4 linked regions of the Homo sapiens genome follow. The protein of the gene in region 1 interacts with the protein of each later gene in a pairwise test. Each region holds a gene or a part of one and is shown on either strand. Other genes may lie near its edges. The genes, in order: KIF5A, DSCAM, KCNE3 and RAPGEF2.

What was found.
Region 2: the proteins of KIF5A (region 1) and DSCAM interact in a two-hybrid assay, tested with the Homo sapiens proteins (one large-scale study listed by BioGRID and IntAct).
Region 3: the proteins of KIF5A (region 1) and KCNE3 interact in a two-hybrid assay, tested with the Homo sapiens proteins (one large-scale study listed by BioGRID and IntAct).
Region 4: the proteins of KIF5A (region 1) and RAPGEF2 interact in a two-hybrid assay, tested with the Homo sapiens proteins (one large-scale study listed by BioGRID and IntAct).

Annotation. Positions count from the first base shown.
Region 1 is NC_000012.12:57,580,402-57,584,442, reverse strand, and holds part of KIF5A (kinesin heavy chain isoform 5A), read right to left. Parts: intron 3,488-4,041; coding exon 3,271-3,487; intron 3,029-3,270; coding exon 2,875-3,028; intron 2,574-2,874; coding exon 2,491-2,573; intron 1,842-2,490; coding exon 1,814-1,841; intron 1,343-1,813; coding exon 1,264-1,342; 3' UTR 1,228-1,263; intron 226-1,227; 3' UTR 1-225. UniProt on the Homo sapiens protein: Microtubule-dependent motor required for slow axonal transport of neurofilament proteins (NFH, NFM and NFL). Can induce formation of neurite-like membrane protrusions in non-neuronal cells in a ZFYVE27-dependent manner.
Region 2 is NC_000021.9:40,335,997-40,340,492, forward strand, and holds part of DSCAM (cell adhesion molecule DSCAM isoform CHD2-42 precursor), read right to left. Parts: intron 3,420-4,496; coding exon 3,123-3,419; intron 2,381-3,122; coding exon 2,105-2,380; intron 1-2,104. UniProt on the Homo sapiens protein: Cell adhesion molecule that plays a role in neuronal self-avoidance. Promotes repulsion between specific neuronal processes of either the same cell or the same subtype of cells.
Region 3 is NC_000011.10:74,464,163-74,469,319, reverse strand, and holds the start of KCNE3 (potassium voltage-gated channel subfamily E member 3), read left to right. Parts: upstream 1-1,770; 5' UTR 1,771-1,830; coding exon of another isoform or gene 1,831-1,922; intron 1,923-1,998; exon of another isoform or gene 1,999-5,058; intron 5,059-5,157. UniProt on the Homo sapiens protein: Ancillary protein that functions as a regulatory subunit of the voltage-gated potassium (Kv) channel complex composed of pore-forming and potassium-conducting alpha subunits and of regulatory beta subunits.
Region 4 is NC_000004.12:159,109,353-159,113,848, reverse strand, and holds part of RAPGEF2 (rap guanine nucleotide exchange factor 2), read right to left. Parts: intron 1-4,496. UniProt on the Homo sapiens protein: Functions as a guanine nucleotide exchange factor (GEF), which activates Rap and Ras family of small GTPases by exchanging bound GDP for free GTP in a cAMP-dependent manner.

The sequences.
Region 1 (4,041 bases):
ATGCTTTGAAATTGCTAAATACATCAGTAGATACTTGAGAATAAGACAGAAGAGAGACATAGCAGCAGCTTTTGATATATAGATACAGAGTACAAAGAGATACAGAGTAAGTAAGAGAAGACATCAAACATAGTACAGTCCAACAACAGGGGTTGGGGAGGGAGTTAGTATCAGAGACCACAGGTTTGCAGCATGCTGAGAAGAGGCCTCAGTCCCTCTTAGAAACTGGGAAAGAAAGAGAAAGAGGGTGTGAGGGCCCAGCTTGTAGCTCAGTCACAGAACAGGAACAGGTGGCATCTGCACACACTTTGGTTTACTGTCCTGTTCCTTTAATACCAACAAGCAGACCCCCCTACCACCGCCCCCCGTGACCCAGGCTTGCACCTCCACCCCTAGGTCTCCCCAACTCCTCTTCTGCATTCCTACTTCTCTGCTTCTCAGACTTTTCTGCCTGTGTGTGCCTGGTTTACTATTCTGGGAAACCCCTGGAGAGGGCTCAGCTTAGATGCAGCCCAGTAAGAGACTGGCCATGTTCTCTGTGCCACTTCTGGGCCCTAAAGCAACCTTGGTGAGAAACCCAGTGACACACAAGAACAAAGAAGGTTCCTGTGCTGCTAGAGGAGAGCACCTGGGGACAGAGGAGGAAAAAGAGGGGCTTTGCCACCTCCACTGAGCAAGATGGGAGGGGAGCGCTGACTGATTTCGTGGGGCGTTTCCTAAAGCTTACTGGTGGCATATACAGATGGGAAGAGGATGGGACACAGGTGCAGGCGTGAAGCAAACATCGCCTTAACTGGAGATGTCTTAGTTCCAAAAACACCTATCCATCCAAAATTATTTCAGGGTGGAGGAAGAGGTGGGGTTGAGATGGCCCCCTAGGGTCTCCTGATAGATCTGCAGTCTACCACCCCTGTGGTTCTAATCTACAGCGGCCAAGCTCACTTCTTTGGACATGTGACAGTGACCCCTAGTGGCAAAAAGACAGTACTGTGGTTACCACTGTAGCCTAACGGAAAGCAAAAGGGGGCACGGGAGGTCAACGTCCAGATTACATGGGGCAGCACAGGTGTAGCCCCCAACAGGGGAAAGCAGGAGTTGAGGGGTAACTACATAATTAAAGTTTTGAGGTGATAAAAAAAAAAAGAAGCAGCAGCAGGAAAACCAAAGAGGCTGTCAGCAAGAAGGGAAGCAACCTGAGGCTGGTCCGAGGAAGCAGCCTGACGCTACCTGAAAGTGCAGGTATGCAGCCGTGGGTGTGGGAGATTAGCTGGCTGCTGTCTCTTGGTGGAGAGGGAAAAGCTTGGCCTGGTCCTCAGCCTCATAGCCACACGGCAGGTCACTCCTGGAGGAAGAGACCCACCATGATCAGCTCCATAGAAATTAAAGTATTCCTGTCATCATGGTTACTCTGCTCTGAGAGTGTCCCTGTGAGATCACAAACGGCAGGGACTATTTGTGTTTTACAGGAATACAGGGAAACTCAAGGCCAGAGGGATGTAAATGACTTGTCCAATGTCACAAGGCTTCCAAAGGTAGGAGAGAAACCCAGTCGTCAGATGCCCACGTTGTTTTCGTCCAGACCTTATCACTGGAATAGGGAGAAGCCACAGATGGGATTGGAGGAGGGGAGATATTCTGCACTGAGGCAGGGGAATGACTGGATCTCCTGGACAACACAGTGATGAAAAGAATGAGTCTCACTCCCTCCCCCTTCCCCAAAGGCTCCAGGAACCTCCAAGTGGGGCACAAGGGAAATTTAATCATTTCTTCTGGTCCCACCCAGAGAACCCAGGGGTAGTGGGGACTGTTGTACCTATTGTCATTGATATCTGTGGCATTTCCTGAAGAGATCATCATTGAGAACACAGGATTAGAAGAAGAAAAAAGGAGATTGGGTGTTAGAAACAGTTTGCGCAAACCCTCTCCCATCTTAATCCCTTAGAGAAAAAGATAAGCTGTGACACTTTCTCCTTAGTTATCCCAAGCTACATCATTATTTTGTTCGAGAAAAAGTTTCTGCAGCCCCTCACCAAGGAGAGGAAAAGGGAACTGGAAGGCAAGGGCTGGGATTGGCGTGGTAATAGGAGGAATCCACTCCCAGGCAGCCTGAGACCTAAAGGGCTGGGCAGTGCTCAGGCTGTAGGTACAGGGTCACTTTTTTCTTCATATGTGTTATTATTATTATTTTAGAGATGGGGCTTTACTATGCTGCCCAGGCTGAGTGCAGTGGCTATTCACAGGTGTATTCACAGTGCACTTCAGCCTTAAGCTCCTGAGCTCAAGCAATCCTCCTATCTCAACCTCCCAAGTAGCTAGGACTACAGGTGCATGCCACCACACCTGGCTATATGTATTTTTTTTTTTATTTGAAGCCTTGGCACACCAGAAAGGTTCAGTCAGTGTTTTTTGTACACTAAGGTCACTTACTTTTATGCCTCTCAACTTGCCCTGAGGACCCCAAAGGTGGGATTACCCATCTTTTTCACTCACCATTGTCCATGTTGGCCTTCTGGTAGGAAGCCAAGGGGCCGCCAGAAGATGTGGCTCCACTGCTGGTACAGGAGTTTGCAAAGCTGGATGGAGCAGAGGAAAGAGGCAGCCTCTGACACCCACCCTCCACTAGTCTGAGGACCACTAATCCACACTCATCCTCAGTGATAGAGCTGCTCAGCCCTCCCCATCCCCAGAGAGCAGAGGAAAACAAACATGGCCACAGGCTGGGAGGGCAGACACCTACCTTCTAATCATAGGCATGAAGTTGAGAAAGGGTTTAGGAAAATAATTAAGCCACAACCAATAACTGCCCCCACCCTATGCCTTCTAGGGTCCAGGGAGCTTTGGGTGGGACTCCAACCCACACGTGTGGTCACTCACTACATATCTGAGGTGGAGCTGGGTGTGGCCTGCAGGTAGAGATTCTGGTAGTTCTGGAAGAGGCTGTTGGTGTAACTGATGCACTCAGGGCTCCGGGTGCCATAGGGGTTGGTGGGTGAGGATGCTGGGTAGTGGCCAGGCCGGACGGGTTTGGCTGCAATAAAGAAAGAAAACAACCATGAGGAGGCTATGACCCTGCATTTGCCCTGGTCCCTGAGGTCATTTAGCTGGGGTTGAACTGAGTTGCTTGTAACATAATCACTTTTTTACTTTTTGGGGGGAAGTGGGATGAGGCTAGGGGTAGGTAAGAAGCAATAATCTAGTTGCTTGGCAATTAGCAATTTGCTAAATTTGCTTCAGGAGATACTCCCACCTTGCCTGCTAACACCTACTCACCAATCTGGGCAGAATGGCCCCGTTTGCCCGAGCTCTTGTAGCGAACGGCCTCCTTGATGCGGTCCACCTCCTGCTGGTACCGGCGCTTGTCCTTCATGGCGCCCTCCTTGGCCTCCTTCAGTGCACCCTCCAGGGCCTTAACTCTCTCAGCCGTAGCCCTAAGTCGTTTTTCCAATTTAGGAAGCTCACAACGCAGATCTGCATTGTCACGTACCAGCTATGGGGCAAGCCAAAGGGAAGAAGTGGAAAGGAAGGCAAGTGACCCAAGACGGTCACCCAGAGGAGCGTAGGGGACAGGGGTGAGGAGAGAGAATAAAGAAAAATCAGGAGTCAGAGAAGATGGAGACCATGTCATTTCCTCAAAAGGCCTCATTGCCTTTATGTAATGGACTGTTCTGTCCAGCTCATTCCTTCTCCCAGAGCGAAGGGTGGGTGGTCAGGCATTTAAAAGTTATATAATTTTCTAGGCAGTAAAACCTGCCATCTCCACTGCAGCCCAGAACTCTTGTGAGAGCGCCTTGTCCTGTCTCCATCTGGTTTCCCCCACATCTCCCAGCATGTGCCAGATCAATAGCCCCAGGGCGGCCATGGGGATGAGGGACCCGCTTCCCCAGAGAGGGCTTTGTGGGCATGCAAAGGGTGGGGCAGCAAGGGCACAGTAGCAGTTTGGTGGCTGTGGCATTGAGGAGAATCTGTGCATGGCAGGTGCAGTGCAGAGCAGGAGCAGAAGCTGGAATTCAGGAGCCCCTGACATACACATATAGACAGGCA
Region 2 (4,496 bases), on another chromosome or scaffold:
TCACTTACAGACACTTGACGAAGCAGGAAACATAACAGTTTTATTACATCTTTACCCTAAAGCTCACGTTATTTTTAATGTTCTATGTCCTGTGTAATAAAATGGGAAGAAGGCACAGTGTTTCCTCCACCTCCTGAGCAGCACGGCTATTTTCAAGCAGAGTATGTCTGTGCTTGCTTGAGTTGCAAATTCGACCAGCTGCTTTTCTTCATGGAATTCCATTTCTTTCTTAAAAGAATGGCTACCTAAAAACGATGGTTATGCGGTCTTTTCTATTTGTCAAACAATTTCTTACAGATAAATGAGCCCATCACTCCTACAATTACAATTGATGGTGTTTATTATAAATAATAAAATTGAATCTTTCAAGAAAGAATAGAATTTTAGAAAACTTGCATCCATCAGCATGAACTTGACAGTTTACTTGAAGACTTTCTGATGAGATCATGGTAATGTTAGTAGTTGTGATATTTTGATATTGTATAACAAATTGTATCAACATTTGGAAGATCTGTGTAACACAGTGAACCAATCATTTCCAAATGATCAACTTTTTATGTTACAAAATCATGTGTGGGTAAAACATTCCTTCCAAGGGTATGATAGACCAATGAATTTTAAGATGACAGAGTACAGAAAATGTGTTGATATGGCATCTGACTATTGCAATGAACCATTAAGATACTGCCATGTTTTAATTCTCTGCATAGTATGGAGTACCATTAGGTGTTTTCTGGTTTATTCACTTGTTTTATTTGTTTATTGTTTGTCTCTCCTGACTGAGAAGAGAGTCAATGAAGGAAAGGACCTTGCAGACCTTTTTCATTGTTGTATTCCTCAGTGTCTAGAGTAGTGCCTGGCATGAAGCAGATGTTCTGTAAATGAGGATTAAATAAATAAACACAACCACCAAATGAACCTTTATGCAGCCTGGTTTACCAAGAATATCTAGTGATTTGAGGAAATTCTCAAGACATATGGTTATTAAAAACCGATTTATAATTATGTGCAGGCATATCTAATATACAATGCACAATACATATTCTATAATATATAATGTAATGCAATATATATGCCCCGTAATAATAGTATACACATATTATTATTTCCATGTGTGTGTGTCTGTATGCGTTCTCACAAAAGTAAAACTCACAGGGTTGGTGGGAAAAGAAGCTTGGGGAAGACCACAGGAAACCTATGCAACTTTGTAACAAGGGCAACTAAAAGCCACTTATTGGTTCCTGGAGAGAGAACTTGGACACCTCAGACAGGCAGCTCAATGTGGCTAGAAGCAACACCCACAGGTTTCGGAAATAGTTTTATAACATATTAGTTCTATTCCTAGGACCCACCTCAGGTAGATTCCTTACATAATTAAAACAATTTTATTTCATATTCAGCTCAGGAAACTGACTTGTAGAATAGAAGAAATGAGTCTTTCTGAGGCTCTGCCACTAAAAGTCTGCGTATCCTTGGATGAGTCTGATCACCTTATTGTTTTTTTCTGGTAAGGAGATTGTAGTCAATTCAAATTGCAGGATCTCTAAAGATCATCCTGACAGGTAGATTCCATGACAGTCCATGTCATGATGCAAAGAATAATTTAATGAGGAAAACGTTCTGTGGCATCCTTTAAACATATAATTTCTATGTTGTTGCTTTGACCTGCTCATCTACAGAAGATAAGACGTTTGTTTGAAATCCTCATCCAATACAGAAAATCCCTTCCAGTGAAGTTCTAAGAGACCTTGCTTTTAGGAGGTTTTAGGAAAAGAAGGTTATTTATTTAAAAATTATCTGAGAGATGACTAGATAATGAAGCTAATGATGTGCTCCTTTTTTTTCTGTTGTATTGTTAACAACACATGCCCTCTGGAAAACCAAGCCAAAATTCCACCTGGAGAGAAAATCAGATCAACTAAAGTTCCTGTGAAGATTCAGTCAGTAGTAAAGAGGACATCTCATGTTCCCTGTCATTCTTCAGCCTGTACAATTATCCTGCTCTAAATAAGCAGATCTTGGATTACCCGACTTCAAATCATTGGTCTGGGAAGTAGTCGGGCTATGGAATGAGTTGTGTGGGAACCAGGAGAACAGGGCTTACCTTTCACGGTCACGTGGACGCTCTGGCTGGTGGAGAGTTGTGGTTGAACCAACACGTTGCACGTGTACTCCCCCTCGTCCACTTCCTTTTGCACATCTGAAAGTTTAAGAGTTCCATTGTTCTCAAATGCCACTTGGCGGTGGTTGAAAGGAAGCAGGTTAGAGTTCTTGTACCATTTAATGGAGTAATACGGATAGCCAATCACACGACAGTGAATGTATGTGTCCCGTCCTGCTATTGCTGTGATGTTTTTCATTGGTCGAATGCTTGCAGGCCCTGGAGAGACACAAAGAAACTCTTGAAAATAATTTAAGGGTACATCTCATGTAGGGAAATGGGTACACTTTTCCTTGAGTTAAAAATGTAGATTATATTCATGTAAGCACATCTTTTTCAGTTAAACAAATATTTTTGCATGTGGCATTTTCTACAACAAAGGTTTTTCTTTCCTTTTCTTAAATTCAAATGTATAACTGTGAAACACTTTATCTGCTACTTCTATGAAAATGTTTTGAATTAAAAATTACAAGATAAAAGGCAATTTAATTAATAGAAAGTAACTAGTCTATACTGGACAATCACGCACTTTTGGTGAACACACTGGCAGCAATTGATCAATTGTTTAACTCTCTCTGTAAAATCTAGGACGACAATGGAGGTTACATCACGTTGCAGCATGAATGTAAGTTTAATACCATGTACATGAAGGTTTACCATGAATGTGGAAGAACCGAAGAGAAGGAGAAGGGAAAGGGCATGCAGAGCATAAACCAGGAAAGGAAACATCAGGTGAACAGATCTAGAGTAAAAAAGAACAAGCTGACTACAGAAACCAAAATGCCATTTCCAACATTAACCCAGTCAGTGCCATTCCTGAGTAGGAAGGAGAGGGTAGGAAATGGGAAGCAACAGTTAATCCGCTCTGGCATTCCAAGACCCAGCTCGGTGCATGCAGAAATCTTCTTCTCCACTATAATGAGTTATGTGTGTTTTTTTGAGGAGCTGATTTGACAAGCACCTCTTACGTTTATTCGAGCCTGGTACAGGACGACTCCCGCCGAGTTGTTGGCAGTGCAGCGGTAGACTCCCCCGTCCCGGACCTGGGAGCTGGAGATGTTCAGGTAGCTGACCACGTTCCCCTCCGACGTGATCATCTGGCTGATGCGGTGACTGCCACCCTTGAGAATCGGGTCATCGTCCAGGGTCCACGTGATCGTGGGCAAAGGTGTTCCCTTCACGTTGCACATAAGGGAAACCGGCTCTGCTGGACTCACCACCTTTTCACTAAAGGCAGAAATAATTTTGGGAGTTCCATCTGCAGGAAAACAAATTATGGAAGAAAGTGGCACATACAAATAATTAAACAACTTCCAAGTATATGTCTTTCATGTCTAGGGGGTAAATGTCGTAGTTGTTAAACATTACCAAAAAGGTCTGGTTTTCCTGATAAAGCAAAACGTTAATCAGAACAAGAGTTCACTGTTTTCAAAACAGGTAAGCACAGTGTTAGCAAGCTTTCATCAACTGTTTCTATATTTCCTGATTGACTTAAGAGGAATGGTAATACAACTCAGATGTTCAGGTTAAACAATGACAGCTCCTAAGAAGTCCTTAATTTAAAACTGGTGTTTCCTCACACAAAGTTATAAACAGACGGAAAATCCACACCCGCTCACTCCCACAAACAGTCACTTTATCTGTTAGGTTGGTGCAAAAGTGATTGCAAAAAGTAATGGCAAAAACAGCAATTACTTTTGCACCAACCTAATACTTCCTCAAGTTATTTGGGGTTTTCTCACTAGGGAATTCTTTACAGGAATAAAGGAAACTACTGAGAGATTGATGACCTCATCTTCATCATTTTCTCATAAGAAATCCTCTTTTAATAACTTTAATTACAAATAGTAATTGCATGCAAACTTCCATGAAGTCTCTGAGAATGGGTAGAAGCTAAATAAAGTTTGTATTAAATGCCGTGTATTAAAAACCTCTAAAGATATCTTAAGTAGGGTACTTAAGCATGTTTTAAATCTCTCTAAAAGTATCTTAAGTAGGCTGGCCATATAATTTAACATCCAACCTGGGACACTTTTGAGGCTGAAACAGAAAGGACTAATAATTATGCCAAGAGAACAGGCATGACCCAGAACTATCGCAGGCAAACTAGGATCTTAATCTTAGAGAAGTCTCCATAGAAATTTTCAGTATGTTTACATAGATCAAATTTTCATATTCCATTATTTTTCTATCATCCATATGGTTTTTTCTCTTATATAGTAATAGTTACAAATGCATGTTTCTTTTATATATGTTTTTCCATTTATAAAAAGAAATACATGCATATTAAAGGAAATGTATGAAAATCAGAAGAAAAGTTACCAATAGGTCAGCC
Region 3 (5,157 bases), on another chromosome or scaffold:
TTCAAAGAACTCACAACCTAGCAGATGGGGTGGACAAATGGTTACTTTCTATAACTGTCATAGACAGTCCTACAGAGTAAATGCAAGGCCGTGGGCAGGATCTGAGAAAGAACCCTGACCAAGCCAGGACTGCTTCCTCATGGCTAGTCTCAAGAACCATTTGCATCAGAGTCATTTGGAAATCTTGTTTGAAAATGCTGATTTCTAGGCTCTACTCCAGATTTCCTGAATTAGAACCTCTGGAGTGGAGCCCAAAAGTCTACTTAGTAAAACAAGCTCCCCAGGGGATTCTTAGGCAGATTGAAAACTGAGGTTGCAGGATGGGCACAGTGGTTCATGCCTGTAATCCCAGAACTTTGGGAGGTGGAGGTGTGCAGGTCACTTGAGCCCAGGAGTTCGAGATCAGCCTGGGCAACATGGAGTAACCCAATTTCTATAAAATACAAAAATTAGCCAGACATAGTGGTGTGTCCCAGTTACTCAGGAGGTTAAGGGAGGAGGATCACCTGAGCCCAGGAGTTCAAGGCTGCTGTGAGCCATAATCACTCCACTGCACTCCAGCCTGGGTGACACAGTGAGATCCTGTCTAAAGGAAGGAAGGAAGGAAGGAAGGAAGGAAGGAAGGAAGAAAGAAAGGAAGGAAGGAAGGAAACTGAGATTGCATGCTTAGGTGATTAGGATGACTTTTCTGAGAGGTGATCTCCAGACTGAGAAAAAGGAATAGTAGGGTCAAAACAAGGTGGGTACAATATACCCACCTTGTATATTGTATACAATATACAATATACCCACCTTGTAGTAGGTCTTTTTAAAACGATAGCACTTCTTAGATATATTCTGGGATTCTGTAATTGAGAGTATGTGCTTCAGATATCCTGGAGCAGACCTTTGCAAGGGAGTGAAAGAGCTGGCCTGAGGCTGTTATTAATTATTCTGAGGCAGTGAGCTGGTAAAAGGGCACCCCACAGGGTCCCCCGGAGAAATTCTCTGCAACTGTCCCTTCCTCTGCCACTAGCCTCCTGGCTCTTATTCCTCAGCTGCCCCGGCTGCCCCAGTTCTCTGAAGCCTGCAATGTCACCAGCAAGGAAACAACAGTTTGAGTGAGGGCATGGTGGTGGGAAAATAAACTGTTCTGGGACAGAGATGAGTAAGGTGCGGCTGAACACAAGTTGGTCAGGCACTGTCACGAACTTTTGAGGCTTGGTGGAGGAAACATTTGCTGGTGCTACTCAGAGACAGAGGGGTGTGTAGTGGATTTTGGGTCTGGGCTCTGCTACCTGGGCAAATCCCTTCTCCAACTGGGCCTCTGCGTCCTGTGTGGAAAAGAGTTTGTGTAAGAATCATATTATTTTGCTGTTGACCCTTTGGTTTTAATACTTTGGACTCAAAGGTCTCATCTGACCTCAACCATAAGCCTGTGAAGAATGCATGGAGGAACTGTACCAACTTTACAGCCAGGCCAAGGCCCAGTGAGGGGCAGCGACTCGCCCACCACCACACAGCCACACTGGAGCAAAACCGACTCCTGGAGATCGGCCTCATGCTGGGCTTGCTGAGGCCCAGCGGAGCGAGAGGCTTTCGGTCTCTGGTCCAGGAAGCAGGCGCTGCAGGGGACGGAAGGGTCGGAGCCCACAGCCGGGGGAGGCCAAGGAGCTGGGCGGAGGCACTCCAGGCCAGCCCGGGGAGAAGTGGGTGTGCTGGGGCCCGGGCGGGGCAGGGGGAGGGGACGCCCGGGGGAGGGAAAAGGGAGCCGAGCGCGGGTGGGAGCCCAGAGCCAGAGAGCGCGCTGGGCGGTGCTGGGCACCCGCGGAGTGGAACGGGGCTGGTGGAATGCACAGGGTCGCAGCGCTTGGGCCACCCTCGGTCAGAGGGCGCCGTGTCCAGCGAGCAAACGGGCGCCCCGGAGCCTTGCTGAGAGGCAGGTAAGGCACCCACCCAGCTGGGAAGGCTGAGCTGCGGCCTGGGGTGGAAATGAGGGGTCTTCCCGCCTCCCTTCCAAGGGCCACGGCGCGCTCTCCGTGAGACTGTGGAACCGAGGGGGAGTGGGGGAGGGGTGGGCGCTGCAAATACCAAGCTAGTCCTCCCGGATCCTCCCCGATCCTCCCGAGCGCAGTGATCGTGGAGCAGCATGTGGGAGTAGGGAGCTGGGCTCTGCGCGCCCCGTCTGGAAACCGTGGGGACTTGCGCCGTTATTCCCAGCCCTCAAGACGGCCACAAGAAAAGTTCCTCCACACCCACAGACGTGCAAGCGAACACTTGCAGCTGGCAGCCAGTGCACACGCAGAAACGACATTTCAGGACCCAGCACAGTCTCATTTGGCTGGAGCCACCGGCTCTGCGGAGCTGACTTGCCCATTCCCTCTACACCTCACTGTGTCCTTCACCCTGTCTGACCTAGTCCCGGGAAACCTGGTGACTCCCAAAAGCATCTTCTGCTGCCAGTAACATAGGTCGAGGCTGGGAGTCGGGAGACTTGAGTTCTAGTTTACAGGCTGTGTAAACCCGGGCAGTCATCCCTCAGCTCTGCGCCTTGTGCTCGCTTTTCCTGGGCCACCATTTGTAAAACGGGCCTCCTGCTCCTGTTGCCTGCATACCCCATGGGACAGAAGGGGAAAGGGGGATTGGACCTCAGAGTCTCTTATCTCGAAAATAAATGAGTTTAGTTCTTGCGTGAAAGCCCACCAGAGTATCCCTCCTAAAATCCTCTCCACTAATTTGCATATAGGGAAACTGATGCCCCAGGGGAGATGATTTACCTAAGGTTACAACAGAGACCAAACAGAATTAGAACCCAAGTTTCCTCAGTCCTAGCCCAGGGCTCTCTCCACTTCACCTACAAAGGCATGTTGTAAACGTGTGAGCTCCTCCTTATTTCCTTGCATCCGTCCACTTTGTCTGTTCCTGATGGAGGAAGACCCATGCTGGGGGCCTAGAAGCTGCTTTCAGATTTTCTTGACTCCTTGAGATGATAACCATCACCTTCTCCATCCCTCACTCAGTCTATACGTCTCAAAGCACATCCATAAACTTAATGTGCGAGTGCTCAAAATACCTTCTAAGAGGGAAGCAAGACAAGAAACTCCATCTTACTGATGAGGAAAATGAGGCCTAGAGGGATATAGACTTAGAGTGATAAAGTTACTTAACCAAAACGCACGGCTAGACGTGTTGGCCTAGTAGGGGCAGGAACCCAGGTCTCCTGATTCCCCCTCTGATGTGTTCTCCACCAGCTACAGGACTACAGAATGGTACCCCTCAATGATAAGGGACTGCGGGAATGATCATAGAGGGTAGGAAACAGGAAGGCTTCTGGAGAAGGTGAGGTTCCTGGGAATCAAGAAGAATAATAAGAACCTCCTGGCTGCTTCTGAGGCTAGGAGACCTGGAGTGGGAAAGGAGACACAGAGATGGTTGTTCTTGGTAATATGGGGGGAAAGGAAAGATGTGGAGACAGAAAAGGAAAACAGTGTGACCAGCCTGCCTGATAATTATCTTGTATGTTTGCAATTTCTAAAACATTCCCATCTCTTGTCTCCTCTAGTTCTCATGTGTGGTAGGCAGGGCAGGGATCATTATCCCCATCTTATAGATGAGGTTCAGAGGAAGTAAATGCAGTGCTCAAGGACACAGAGCCAAGCATACAGCCAAGATTAGAATCATGAAAGGAACACTTGAACGGCAAGATCACAGGCTGAGGGACTGGGGAGTTGGACTGTGTGTGTGTGTGCAGTGGGTGGGTGTATGTGGCCACACCCTGGGTAGGTACACAGGGAAGAGGGTTGCAAAGCCATTGCTGGTGTTTTGAGGCCAAGAATGTTTGCCCTTTGGATTGAATGGGGTCCAGGTGCAGGGAGCATCTGGGCTTCCAAAGAAGGCTTAGAATTCTTCCTCCTCTGACTCACCCCACCTGACTGAGATGGCTTCTTTTCTTTGAGCCATCCCTTCCCCAGACCAAATGAAATCTGTTTTGCCCTGCCCTGGAGGTTGCTTTTTAAATATTGTAAACTGTTTTCATGAATGTATGTGCGTGTGCCAGAGCGGGGGAATGCTCTTAGAGAAGAGGCATTGATTCATTTATTCTTGAATGCCTGCTAGGTATCAGGGCTGGGAAATAAAGAAATGTATGAGGCACAGGACCCTGCCCTCTTACCTTAAAGCGCACAGTTACACACATACACATACACACACACACATACACACACACACACACACACACAGAGTTTCAGTACAGTATAGTGCTCTAATAAGCCTTCGTGCAAAGCACTTTTGGGAAAAAACAAGAGGGAGAGACTAACTGGCTAGGGAGTGAGGAAGGAGGAGTCCCAGGAGAAGGTCTGCAGAGATGAATTGGAGTTGGGTCTTGAAGGATGAGTAGGAGTTTGCCAGGCAGGTAAAAAGAGGAAGGGCATTCTTGTTTAAGAAAACAGCATGAGCAAAGGCAAGAGATGTGCAAGTGCAAGGAATATTTGGAGAGTGGCCTGTACTTCAGTGTCATGGGTGCAGGCCACTGAAAAGAGCTGTGGGGAGATGAGGCCAGTGTCAGAGTCACATTTCAAGGAGCTTCAGTGGTAATCAGAAGAGTTTAGAGTCTGCCCTACTGGCAGAAGGGAACTTATAGTGGAAAGGTCTGTGGAGGGGAAGTCAAGATACTTGGTTTCTGGCTCCAACTCTGCCACTACTGAGCTGTGAGACCTTAAGCAGGTGATTCCCTTGGGGAGGAGGGTCTATTTTCCCACTGGTTGAATGAGGGGGTTGCACCAACAACATGATCATGAAGATCTCTTCCAGCTCAGATTCTATTCCTTTGTCCTTCCAACTGGATGCTAAGGGCTACTCCTTCAACTCCTCTCCCACTCCACCAGCTCTCCAATCCACAGGAGTGGTAAGACCACCAAGGGGACAGTGGTAAAACTGTGCACCCCAGGAACTGTCTTTGGATCACCTACCTGCTTTATGTGACTTTTTCTACCTACCTCTCTGTACTTCATTTCCAGACACTGAAGACGCTCATTCTGAAAGAGTAGCTGAAACGGAGTGACGGGAAAGAAAGACCCAAGGGTAGAGTTTCACTTTTCCCCAGAGCAACCTGAATGAAAACCCCACTAAGATCCCCAGTTCATCCCTCAGATCACAGCTTTATTCCCCAACTTCCAAGTT
Region 4 (4,496 bases), on another chromosome or scaffold:
CTAGTGGTTCAATACATACAAAATATTCACTTAAAAGGTACTAGGCTCTTCATTAAGAGTAAATTATTAAACTGGAAAAAAAGATACTTTTTTTTTTTTTTTTTTTTTGAGACAGAGTCTCATCCGTCACCCAGGCTAGAGGGCAATGGTGCAATCTCGGCTCACTGCAACCTCCACCTCCTGGGTTCAAGTGATTCTCTTGCCTCAGCCTCCCAAGTAGCTGGAATTACAAGCATGCGCCACCACTCCTGGCTAATTTTTTGTATATGTAGTAGAGAAGGGGTTTCGCCATGTTGGCCAGGCTCAACTCGAATTCCCGACTTCAGGTGATCCACCCGCCTCAGTCTTCCAAAGTGCAGGGATTACAGGAGTGAGCCACCATGCCCAGCCTAAAAGATGTCTTAAAAAGTAATAATTTGGTATCCCCTTTTCAGGTTCACAAAAAAAACTTCAAAAGCTATGCTTCCTTTTTTTAACTTTGAATTTTTAAATAATTTTAGAGTAAAAAAGGTTATTTAAAAAACGGGTCAAAGATCCCCTGTTTACCCAGCTTCCCGTAATTTAGCATCTACAATAATTGTGGTAAAGTTATCTAAATATTCAAATTTCATCAGTCATCCTAATAATGTTTTTTTGTTGTTGTTCTTGTCCAGGATCAATTCCAGAATCCTACATTACATTTGGTTATCACATGTCCTTAGTTTCTTCCAATGTGTGGCAGTTCTTGGGCATTTCTTCATCTTCCACACCCTCAATACTTTCAGGGAATACTGGCCAGTTATTTTGTAAAATGTCCTTAAATTTGAGTCTATCTGATATTTGCTCCACTTAGGTTGATTTTTAGTTAAGAATACCAGAGATATCTCTTTCTCAATACATTATATCAGCAGACACATGATGTTGACATGTCTTATTACTAATGATATTAACTTTGATGATCTGGTTAATTTGATATTACCAGTTTTCTTCACTATTAAGTATTGATTTTTTCCTTTATAGTTAATTAATTTTGTGGGGGAGATATTTTGAGACTATGCAAATATCCTGATGATACTGATCTATGATGATATTTTTCATCATACCTTCACCCACTAATTTTGGCATCCATTGATGATTCCTGCCTGTAACAATTGCTACTATGGTGTTTACCTGCTGGTGATTTTCTATTTCCATCATTCCTTCATTTTCTAATTAGAATTCTATAACAAAGAGGTGTCTCTTCTCCTGCTTTTATTTATTTATTCAACTACTTACTTATATCAGTATGGGCTCATGGATACTTTCTTCCCTAGGGGTTATAGTCCGTTACTGTCATGATTTGCTTCTCAAACTGTCCCAAATTTGGCCATTGGGACTCCCTTTTGTATATACAGTCATTAGACTTCCTTCTGATTTTATTTTTTAAATTTCAGTTGGAGAATATGAAGGCTAAGGCTAACCTTACTACTTCCATTATGACAAAAAAAAAATATGAAAAGGAAATACATATATCAAAATCTCCCAAATGTGGTATGCTATCACAACTCTTGCTCATCCAAGACCTTATGCTCTTTGCTCTATATTTATACGCATTATCACAGAACTTTCTCTTCATTGTCACTATTAAACCCATCTCACCTTTTACCACCAACCCCCCAATCCTCAGACATTATTGGTATTTTAGAAGCACAAGGCCAAACTATTCACTAACAACAGAAATTCATTTTAACCAAAAGGTAATAAGCCTTAATGATGCTGCGCAGGGGGAGGGGAGTCAATCTCCAAAGGCCATATACTGTACGATTCCAATTAATAACATTTTTGAAATGACAAAGTTATAGAAATGGAACAGATTAGTGATCCCCAGAGGTGGGGTGGGGGAGTGACTGTGGCTATAAAAGTCCAACAAGAACCATTTGTGGTGCTGGAATTGCTTTGTTTCTTGATTGCACTGATGTCAATATCCTGATTGTGATATTACACTACAGTTTTATAAGCTATTACTAATGGGAGAAACCGGTTAAAGGGTACACACAGGATCTCTCCCCATTATTTCCTACAATTGTATGTGAATCTACATTTATCTTAAGCTAAAAAGTTTAAGAAAGATAATGATTCCACTGAAGACTGGTCATTAAAAAATAAAATACATTTTAAAAGATAATGAGTCTTAACTCTAGAATGAATTTTCAGGAGAAATCAGATAATCACCATAGTACCATAAACCTCTCAGATCCACTGATTGTTGGCTTCTAAGAAAGTTACTATCAGACCTCCCCAGAATGACCTAATGATTAATTCTCGTTCAGTGTTCTCTACCTTTCTTCTCCGTTTTTATGTTGGGTGAAAACAAATACCATGAGCTAGAGAAGAACAGAAAGGTGCCAAGGGGCAGATATTACACTGTGTCGGTTTGTCAACTAAACTGCAAATGGCAGCGAAATGTACATTTTTATTCACTTATTTTAATTCTAAAGCTCCACAGTCCATTATTTTCAACCTGTGGAAGGCAAGCAATGAGAAACAACAGCCAGCGGAAGACAAGTTTAGTTCCAATGACAAAACAAAGTTCCTCTTCAAGTCACTGACACTAACTCTCCCAAAACACTTCTTATACATAATGGATATGAAAGCACAGAAGAGGTGGAGCCAGGACAACTTAAAATCCAAGGACCAAGTTGTTTCCTCCACAAAAACCAATAAACCCACCACCACCGCACCAAGGGTAAATTCTTTCACAGACTGGAGGGAAAAAGGAAACAGCTGAATACAGCAAGAAACACACGCTTCTTAAAATTCAGTAGGTAGTGGCGATTTTGCATGTGAAAACAAGGGTGGTTTTTTTTTTTCCTGAAAAGATAAAAATTCTAGAAGTCAAAATAATGCGGCAATAAACTTATTTTTCTTCCTACAATGACTGACATAATCACTTGAACATAGTTTTAACTATATAAATACATAAATATATATTCTAGCTCTGATAAAGTTACAAGATCAATTATATGTACTACAGATTGCTTCTCCTAATTTACCAACATCAATTAATTTATCTAAACAAAAAATGGTATAAAGGAGTAAAAAACTGTTCTCAAAGACTCAATGCCATCATTACATTGTGTCGTCACAAGTCAATTTTGAGTTTTTATATAAATAAGTTCATTTTTGCCTGCTTAAATTCAGAAGTTCTCCAACTCTTCCAAATGATGAAATGCTTGGAAATCACATTATCATTACAGATTAAGAAATATATTTAGTACAACTACATGATGGTGTTTTGGGTTTTGTTTTTTTGAGATGGGGTTTCGCTCTTGTTACCCAGGCTGGAGTGCAATGGCACAATCTCGGCTCACTGCAACCTCTGCCTCCAGGGTTCAAGTGATTCTCCTGTCTCAGTCTCCCCGAGTAGCTGGGAATACAGGCACCTGGCTAATTTTTTGTATTTTTAGTAGAGATAGGGTTTCACTATGTTGGCCAGGCTGGTGTTGAACTCCTGACCTCAAGTGATCCACCCGCCTCAGCCTCCTAAAGTGCTAGGATTAGAGGCATGAGCCACAGCACCTGGCCTAGTTTAACTATATGATTAACCAGATATTTCAAACTAGATTCCCAGAATGTACATGTAGTAGAAGACATTAATGTTTAAGGGAAAAAAATAGTGTGAGAAACCTTAAAAATCAAGAAAACTATATTCAACAACTTGGATTTTTTCCTATGAACTATGAAATATCCATGATCATCCTGTGCCATAATTAGGCTGCACTGGTATGATTCAAACACAGTTTTACTATAATGAGATATAAAACGTGCACACATTCAGCCAGCCTGTCCAGCAGATTCTACTCCTGCAATATTTCTAATCCATCACCACTGTGTAATTCAGCTTCCCAGCCATCTCAAGCCAGGAAAATGAACATCAGTCTTTAACAGAACTCTTGGTCTCCTCACTACCCTCACAAACCATGAGCTTCTAAATGCCAGTAATCATTCCTTACCCCCTCCTCAGTCCCCTGGTTCCCAGCACACTGAACAAAGAGCTGCACATGTTGTCTTACCAGGTGTGCTACTCATATGACAGTAGGTCAATCTGGAATACCACTTCAGGTCCACTAGTTCACTGGTAGGTGAATTCTTACTCCCCTACAACTCAATACATATTCATCTAGGAAGTCCACATCCTCTTCAGTGCTGTCATAGGATAGCTGTTACAGCACTCATGAATTACAATCTACTTATAACAATAGATTAGTGAGTTACTTGAGGGACACACATTTCATCTTTGAATTCCCAAGGCCTGTTAAATAATAGAAATTGTATAAAATATGCTATAAAGAGGACTAACATTAGGCATTACACTAAATAATGTACTTTCACTTAATCCACAAAACCTCAGACAGCTATTATCCATTTTACCGACGAGGAAATTGTTACCAAAAATGGAGTGAAGAGAAGGAATACCCCATAAAATACGGATTATCAAGGACCAACGATTTTCAGTGGTTTCCATATCTCCTAAGTCT